2 linked regions of the Homo sapiens genome follow. The protein of the gene in region 1 purifies or fractionates together with the protein of each later gene. This does not show direct contact. Each region holds a gene or a part of one and is shown on either strand. Other genes may lie near its edges. The genes, in order: ZNF133 and TPD52.

Evidence for each region.
Region 2: the proteins of ZNF133 (region 1) and TPD52 purify together in Homo sapiens (affinity purification with mass spectrometry; one large-scale study listed by BioGRID and IntAct). This does not show direct contact.

What each region holds. Positions count from the first base shown.
Region 1 is NC_000020.11:18,286,855-18,291,440, forward strand, and holds the start of ZNF133 (zinc finger protein 133), read left to right. Parts: upstream 1-1,672; 5' UTR 1,673-1,750; intron 1,751-3,044; exon of another isoform or gene 3,045-3,220; intron 3,221-4,586. UniProt on the Homo sapiens protein: May be involved in transcriptional regulation as a repressor.
Region 2 is NC_000008.11:80,052,972-80,056,784, forward strand, and holds part of TPD52 (tumor protein D52), read right to left. Parts: intron 460-3,813; coding exon 311-459; intron 1-310. Other genes in the region: TPD52-MRPS28 protein, read right to left, coding at 311-459.

The sequences.
Region 1 (4,586 bases):
GAGGTATGGCATGGAGTGGGTGGGAAATGCCAGGAGAAAAAGAGGACATGGCAGCAAAGAGTGTTTTAGAAAGCAGGCAATCCAGATTTCTAGATGGAAACTCCTAATTATTAAATGCTGAGGTCTGTCAAAGATGAAACTGGAGGCTGGACACACCAAATATCTGTATGACAGAGCTGTACATCTAGACGGTGGACATCTAGCATCCCTGTCTATATGCAAGTCAGCTGGCTGCAAGACCACGTGCTGCTGAAAATCTCACTGTGGTCATGACAGTCCACCCAGTGGCTCAGACCCTGAGATTCTGTTCACACTTCCTACACTCTTCCTTACTCGTCTGTGTTCTTCCAACTCCTCATCTTGCCTAATTCCTCAGGCAGCACCTCATCCTGTAAGTCTTCATTTCCAGGCTTAAGAGATGTCAGCCATCTGTGTCTTTATTGTACAGCCAGCACAAGTGAACACTTGAACACAGGCATCCCTGCATTGTTGTTCTGAACCTTTATGTGTATTAACAACTAATTTCTTGGTGATGACTGACTCATGAGGCAGAGAATGATGTTGAGGGATGAATCCAATTGACACTGGACATGTCTCCGGAGCCAGGACTGAACTGAATTCACAATAAATAATGTAGCCTCGGGGTACCAGAAGGGAATGGATTCACCCTCTGAGAGCTACAAAAGAATTTTAGGAAATTCTCATCTCCCTGGCCCTTCAGACAGTGGTCATTTTCTTGGTCTTCCAAGAGAATGACAAAGTTTCAGAAAGCCTATCTGAGGAAGGTGAAGGGCAGTGAGAGGGTGCACGGGTGGAAAAGCCCTCTCAAGAGTGACGTGGGCCTTCCCCTCGAGCTCCCCAGATGGGGCGTCCCAGATGGCACCAGCGCAATCTTGTTCTCAACCAGGATCCCGGACAAAGACCTAGAGATCCAAGCCGACGGCAGGCCAAGCTCTGGCCCGAGACTGAGGCTTCTGCTTCTCAGGAGATGAGAGTTTAACAATAACTTCGTGGATTTCAAAAAGAAGAAAAAGGTCTCAGGGCACCGGAAAAGGTGTATTCGGGTTGAGGGCGTGGGCTCAGAATCGGGTCTACCTCGTACGGGATGTGAGACTTCAGGCAGACTGCTCGGCCTTTTCAAGGCTTTAAATGGAGCTAAAGGGTATACGACATGACGTTCGCCCGGTGTTTAGGAATATGGGGCGTGACTTTCCAAGCAGGCGGCTGGAGCCAGGGAGACCACAGGCCGCTGCAACACAAACCAGCACCTGAACAAGCTTGGTCAGCCAGCGGTACACCTCCGCCAACCCCAGAAGCCGAACAGATGCGCCCCGAAACGTCATTTCCGCGCGCCAAGGGGCGGGGCCGGTACCGGGTGCGGAAGTCGCTCCAGGGGTCACTGGGAAGTGTAGTTTTCGAGACAGAGGCGCTCAGAAGGAGGGTCACAGTAGGGCCAGGCACTCTTCTCGGGAGCTCCTACGTGTTTTATGCACGTGGTTAAGAAAAAAGAGGGAGAATTCAGGTGCCACAGTGGCCATTCTCCGGTGACCGGAGCGTGTTACTCAGAAACGGATCCGTCAGAGGCCAATGGGAGCTGCCGGCCTTCAGGGCGCGCCTGGTGGCGCCGAGCATCCTGGGAGGTGTGGTCCGGGCGCTGTGCCGAGGATTCGGGGTAGTGTAGTCCTGGCGCCCCGCTGGAGGAGCTCCCCAGCTGGTGGCTGGAGCGACCCCTTGTTCTTTGGTGGCGCTGGTGAGTGAGGCTCCCGCGGGACCCTTGCCGCAGCCGTACCCTTTTCTGCGCGAAAAGGAAGGTCCCGAAAGGCTGGACTATGGGCTGAATTTGGGGACCGTGCGGGTGGCGCGGGGGTGGTGATTGTGGTGGGAACGCGCTGGCGTGGCGCAGGCCGTCCTCTCCCAGATGTCTTATTTTGGGGGTGTGGGCGTGCATCTCCAGGGGAGTTGGGTGAAGCCCATCCGTGAAACTGGATGGTGATGAGTGGGGGATCGGGCTCTCTCTCCTAGGGTTCTTGTGGGTGGGGACAGGTTCGGCTTTGGCTGAAGTCGGGTATTGGGAAAGGGAGTCGCTGATGCCATAAGTCCCCGGTTTTGGGGGAGTTGAATAAATAAGCTTTTTGGGGGAATGGTATTTCCCAGGTGGTGGAATGGGAACCATCCCTGGGGCCATGTGTCCCCGAGGCATTGGTCGGTTGAGGGCTAGTCTCTTGGGGCCACACTATTCTTCGGCTTTGCTGGAGTGGAATGAGGAGCGGTCTGGCTTGACCAAACAAGCCAAGGTTAGACTGGATCTGGGGTGGCCATTTTGCCGCGATCTTAGGGTTTCACTTTGGTTGGTCACCCCCGGGTTCGGGCGTTGGAGGAGGAAGTCTGGCTGGGACGCACAGGACAGGTTTTTTCCAAAGGTCCCAGGGACCGTCATTGATCGCAAGAATTACGGATTCCCAGGCCCCTGGTGTGGCCAGGCTTTGGGATTTTACATTCCATTTAAGTTTTTATTGCGGAGAAATTTCAAACAGCCAGAAGTAGATAGAACTCTATAGACCAGATCTCCATCACCCAGATTCAACACTTAAAACCTTATGACCAATCTTGATTCATCTCAGAATGGACACAGAGAATCCTTGCAATCCAGAGTTCACCGTCACTGCCCTTACTGTGTAAGAGCACGGTCTCCACAGCCACATTTCCTCTAGGCTCTGTCACTTTATAGCTGTGTCACCTTGGGCAAGATGCTGACTTCACTGTACCTCAGTTTCCTCGATTTTATCCTAAAGAGGATAATAGCATCTATCGTATTGGGTTGTTGAAAGGATAGAATGAGGTGAAACTCCTACAGTGGCTGTAACAGTCTCTGGTGTATACTAAGTGTTCAGTGAATATTACCTTTCATTAATAACAGGCACAGAGAAGGTCGCTTCATGCTCAGCGTCAACAGCATATCAGGGCAGGTCGTGCTTTCAACCTGTACCCCAGCTGTGTTCCCAGGAAGCTGCCCGCAGTTCTTTTCTCCTTTTCTTCTGTGGCAGGTTCATTCCTGATGCTGTTAAGGAATAGGAGGTACTGCCCTGCTGGAGAGGATTTCCCTTGATTTTCTTGAACGCTTTTTGTTCTTGTTCTGCCTCCCTGTGGCTCCTGTCTGCCCAGAGAGGACTGCCTGCTGGGGAAAGGGGGTACTCCTGAGCTCCTGACAGCCCAGCTTCAGGTGGGTGCCACTTACCTTTTGCATTTCGAACCATGAGTGGGTTTCTTTTGCTCAGCTTTGACGTCTGTGTTCTACAATGTCCCATCCAGGGATCAGGGCCCCAGCTGGTTCCTTCAGGAAACTAGGCTTGTTTTAAGAGTGATCATTTTCACAGGGAATATTTTTCAGAGCTGATGCTCTCATTCATTACACCTATATTCTTCCCCTACATTCCTTCTTTCAGTATTTGTTCAGACTGCTCATTCCCAGGGCTTGTCAGGTCCTGTGAAGTTGTTAACATTCTGTTCTTCTGTCTTCCAATACTCTCACTTACTCTTTTCCCTGCTAGAGTTTTGGCAGCAAATCCCAGTTATATCATTTCACCTGGGAACACTTCAGGAGGCATCTCTAACACATAAGGACTTCTTTTTTTAACATAACCACAATTTCATTGTTATACAGTTACATTGTTACAATTATATTTTGTTATACCCAACAAAATTAATAACTTATTAATATCATTTAATATCTAGCCCATATTGTTTTCCCCCATTGTTAAAAAAAAAATCTTTTTTTTCCACCAGTCAGAACAGCCCTGGTCAGAGGCAGGAGAGGGAAAAGTATCTGGAAACAGCATCCCAGTTTTCCCTATCTCTGCCTCATTTCTCCTCCTATTTCTTCTGATCTTGCTGATCTGTGTTGACAGCCTTATAACTTGATATAAGCTGGACCTCTGAGTTTTCCTTGCATCCTTGTTTCCAAACTTACTTCCCATTAGAAGTTGTGTCCTCCTGGCCGGGCACAGTGGCTCACACCTGTAATCAGCACTTTGGGGGGCCAGAGCGGGCAGATCACCTGAGGTCAGGAGTTCGAGACCAGCCTGGCCAACATGGTGAAACCCCATCTCTACTAAAAATACAAAAATTAGCCAGGCGTGGTGGCACACACCAATAATCCCAGCTATTCAGGAGGCTGAGGCAGGAGAATCTGTCGCCTGGGCAACAGAGCAAGACTCCACCTCAAAACAAAACAAAAGTTGTATCCTCCTATTCCACCTGTGCATTCTTCTCGATTCCTTTTCTTTCCCTTTGTCTCCATTTCTGCACTGCCCTAGCTTCCTGTCTCTTCTTCACCTTCTTGCCTTGTCTTTCCTCCCATTTAGAGCTGAACTCCTTGAAAGAATTATCTATGTTTGTTGTCTGCGTTGCTATCCTTCTGTTATGTTTCGAATATTTTAGTAAGGCTTTTTCAAGTGACACCAAAAAATATTCTTGTCAGGGTTACCAATGGTCTCCTTGACTAAAGGCCACAATCAGTTCTCAGCAACATTTGATGTAATTGTTTACATCCTCCTTCTTAATATATCCTTTCACACAGTTGCTCTTGG
Region 2 (3,813 bases), on another chromosome or scaffold:
CTGGGTTATTCTGAGTACTAAAGGACAAAATGTACATATTTGTGGCAAGTCAATACATAACACTTATGGGATTTGAATTTTATTTCTCCAACTGGCTAGCTTTCTTTCTATTCCTTAGAATAAGTGGTCTGGAAAAATTGAAGTTACAAAAAAAGGCAGGCACACTTGAAAATCAGAAAAAAAGGGTGCCGTGTCGTCCAAAGAAAAGCTGCTGAAGCATCCTTATCCTCTTTTTCTTCCCCTCTCCAGACAAAAGGCACAACAGTGTCCTTTACACTCCCAAGGAAAGTGTATGATCAAGGAAACATACGCAGATGTTGCTGTCACGTCTTGCCACCCTTTGGCAATGTTCTGTTTTAGTTCCTGTAGAGAATTGATTCCAAGTTTCCGCTTGATCTCTGCTAGATGCTTCTCTTTTGCTGCTAACACTTGAGACAGAGTCTGGATTTCTTCTTCTACCTATGAGGAAGGGGTTTGGGGTAAGAATATAGCAAAAGTCATTCAGTAAGTTAAGATTATTACCACAGAACTACATCCAAAATTCCAGTCATTAAACATTTTTTTGAATCATTTATCTTTCTCTCTAAAAACAATGTATAATGTTGTTGAGTAAACTGGTTACTTGCTGATCTCTCCTGTAGAGTTCTCTTTCCTCCTCCATGGGAGCTCTTTATAATCCCATCTTAAGCTGTTTTTGGCCTTCTCCTCTCTCCCTATACTTCCTTACTCAGCTATCTCATGTAGGTTTAGGACTCAAATTTCTACACAGATAATACTTAATAAAGCACTCTAACATCCACTCTCCCGACCTGTGGGTCTGCCTTCCCAGCCTAGACATTTCTATCTGAATGCCTACAAAACTTGTATTTGTATACTAAATCAAAATAATCTCCATCCCCTACCAAAACACACACAACCAAGCCAAACCCAAATCCAATCTCCTTGCATATTTGATATGAGTATATATACTGGATACATATACTCAGTCCCTGTGTCTGGCAAAGTCATGGCCATAATAAATCAAACCGCCTCCTCAGGAGATCCCTGCTCTCAAGGGTTTCATGTGAACCCCTTGATGCTGACTGCCCAGACTTGACTAGGTGGTTAGAGGTGGGCCCTGACCCATGGACAGCCACCCATCAAGAGCCAGTGGATGAGCCCAGTGTGAAAAGAGGTGCTCAACTATTCGTCTCTCTCACTCAGGAATCTAGTTTGAGAAGTGAGATGACATTGCAAGTAGAAGCTGAAAAAACTTGAAGAAGCCTTGAGGTATAGGTAGGCTACAGTGAGATTATGAGAGGTATGGAAAGCTTAAATATGCTTGAGGAATCTAAAACTGTAAGCAGAAGCTATGAAGAAAAGGAAAAAATGGACAGAGTAGAACAAAAGGCTAATCCAGGAAAACAGGGAAAATGGTAGACTCTCTATTTCAGAAACAGGGAAAAGGGTGGACTGCCTATTTCAGAGAGAAATAGACACCATGTGGAAGAGACTTTAGGTCCCAGGAAATTGAAAATCTAGGTCCCTAAAGTATATCCATTAACATTCAAGACCCTCAGAGAAATGCGTCTCCTGGCTTGTTGCAAAGCCATATTTTCAGCCCCAACCTGCACGGTATTTCTATGATTTCAAAGACAACATGCCCTTTAAAAATAACATAGAGTATTGCTCAGTCAAATGTTTTCACAGATGTTTAAGTCTTTAGAGAACACAAAACAAAGAAAATTAGTGCAACGGAGAAAAGGATAAATCAAATGTGATGCAGCTGCCAAGAAAAAAAAAAAAAGAAGAAAAAGAACCTACAACACCACTCTCAGATAAGATTAACTGGAACAGAGGTCCCTCAGAACAAATAAATAATCCCCTGTGCTTGTCAGAGTCACAAGTACTGGACCCAGTTTTGTAAGTCACATTTTAAGATGTACATTGACGAAGTGGAATACGAGAAGAAAAGGACAAAAAAAGAGGAAAGAATAAGGTTCAAAATTAAGTAAATTAAATGATTTGCCCAAAGTCATCAAACAAATAATGTAGGAACCAGAATTCCTATCTAGGTTTTCTGAATGCACGTCTCAGTTTACTGGCTGAATTCTCATGTACACTCTCTTAAGCTTCCCACTTCCTCTGTCTCTACTTCAGGCTCCAAAGCTTCAGACACTTCTAAGAATAGACTTAAATGGTAAGTTTCCCACCCCTTAGCACTTCTCTGAGGTACTCACTTCCTCTAATGAAAGCTGCAAAGACAAACCACTCTAAATCTTTCTGAACAATGCACAACACAGTATATTCCCCACCTTTGTTGGTTAGCTTGTGCTGCTAACACACCTAGCCCAGCACATCATGGCTGCGATTCCTTAATTCAATATATACATGTAAAACAGAGTGACTTTAAAAGCATAAAGAGCATGATTAAGAATCTCTGATGTGTCTATCACTATATACAAAGATCAACTCAAAATGGACTAAGGACCCAAAACCATAAAACTACTAGAAGAAAACATAGGAGAAACACTTCAGGGCATTGGTCTAGACAAAGATTTTATGGCTAAGACCTCAGAAACACAGGCAACAAAAACAAAAATAGACAAATGGGACTAAATTCAAGGAAATCATCAACAGAGTGAAGAGATAACCTGTAGAATGGGAGAGAACATTTGCAAACTATTCATCTGACAAGGGACTAATATCCAAAATATACAAGGAACTCAATTCAACAACAAAACAAACAAGCAATCCCATTTAAAAAGTGGGCAAAGGATCTAAATAGACATTTCTCAGAAGAGACATATAAATGGCCAACAAATATATTAAAAATGCTCAACATCACTAATCATCAGGGAAATGCAAATCAAAATCAAAATGAGGTATCACCTCACACCTGTTATTATGCCTGTTATCAAAAAACCAAAAAATAACAGATGCTGGCAAGGATCCAGAGAAGATGAAACTCTTATACACTGTTGCTGGGAATATAAATTAGTACAGCCACTATGAAAAACAGTATGGAGGTTTCTCAGAAAAACTTAAAATAGAAATACCACATAATCCAGCAATCCCACTACTGGGTTACTTATCCAAAGGAAAGGAAATCAGTGTATCAAAGGGTACCTACACCCCCACGTTTATTGCAGCACTATTTACAATACCCAAGTGTCCATCAACAGGTGAATGGATAAAGAAAATGTGGTATACACAATGGAATACAATTCTGCCATAAAAAAGAATGAAATCCTGTAATTTGCAGCAACATGGATGAGCCTAGAGAACAATACGTTAAGCAGAATAAATCAGGCACAGAAAGATAAATACTGCATGTTCTTACTCACATGTGGACGCCAAGAAAAAACTCTGAACCCATCTAAGTAGAGAGTAAAATTGTGGGTGTTAGAGGTTGGGAAAGGGAGGATGCCTACAGGTTGTGCTTCAAACGACACTGTCATGAAAGTAAAAGACAACCAACAGAATGGGGAAAATATTGGCAAATTACATACCTAATAAGAGTCTAGTATCTAGAACATATAAAGAAACTTACAACTCAATAAAAAGACAATCCAATTAGAAAATGGGCAAAGGACTTAAATAGACATTTCTCCCAAGATATACAAATGACCAATAAGCACATGAAAAGATGCTTAACACCATTCATTAGTAATTTGAGAAATGCAAATCAAAACCACAAGGAGATACCACTTCATACCCATTAGGATGGTTACAATTAAAAAAAACAGAGATTAATAAGTGTTGGCAAGGATGTGGAGAAATTGGAACCCTCAGACACAGCTGGTGAGAATGTAAAATGAAGTTGGGCAGCAA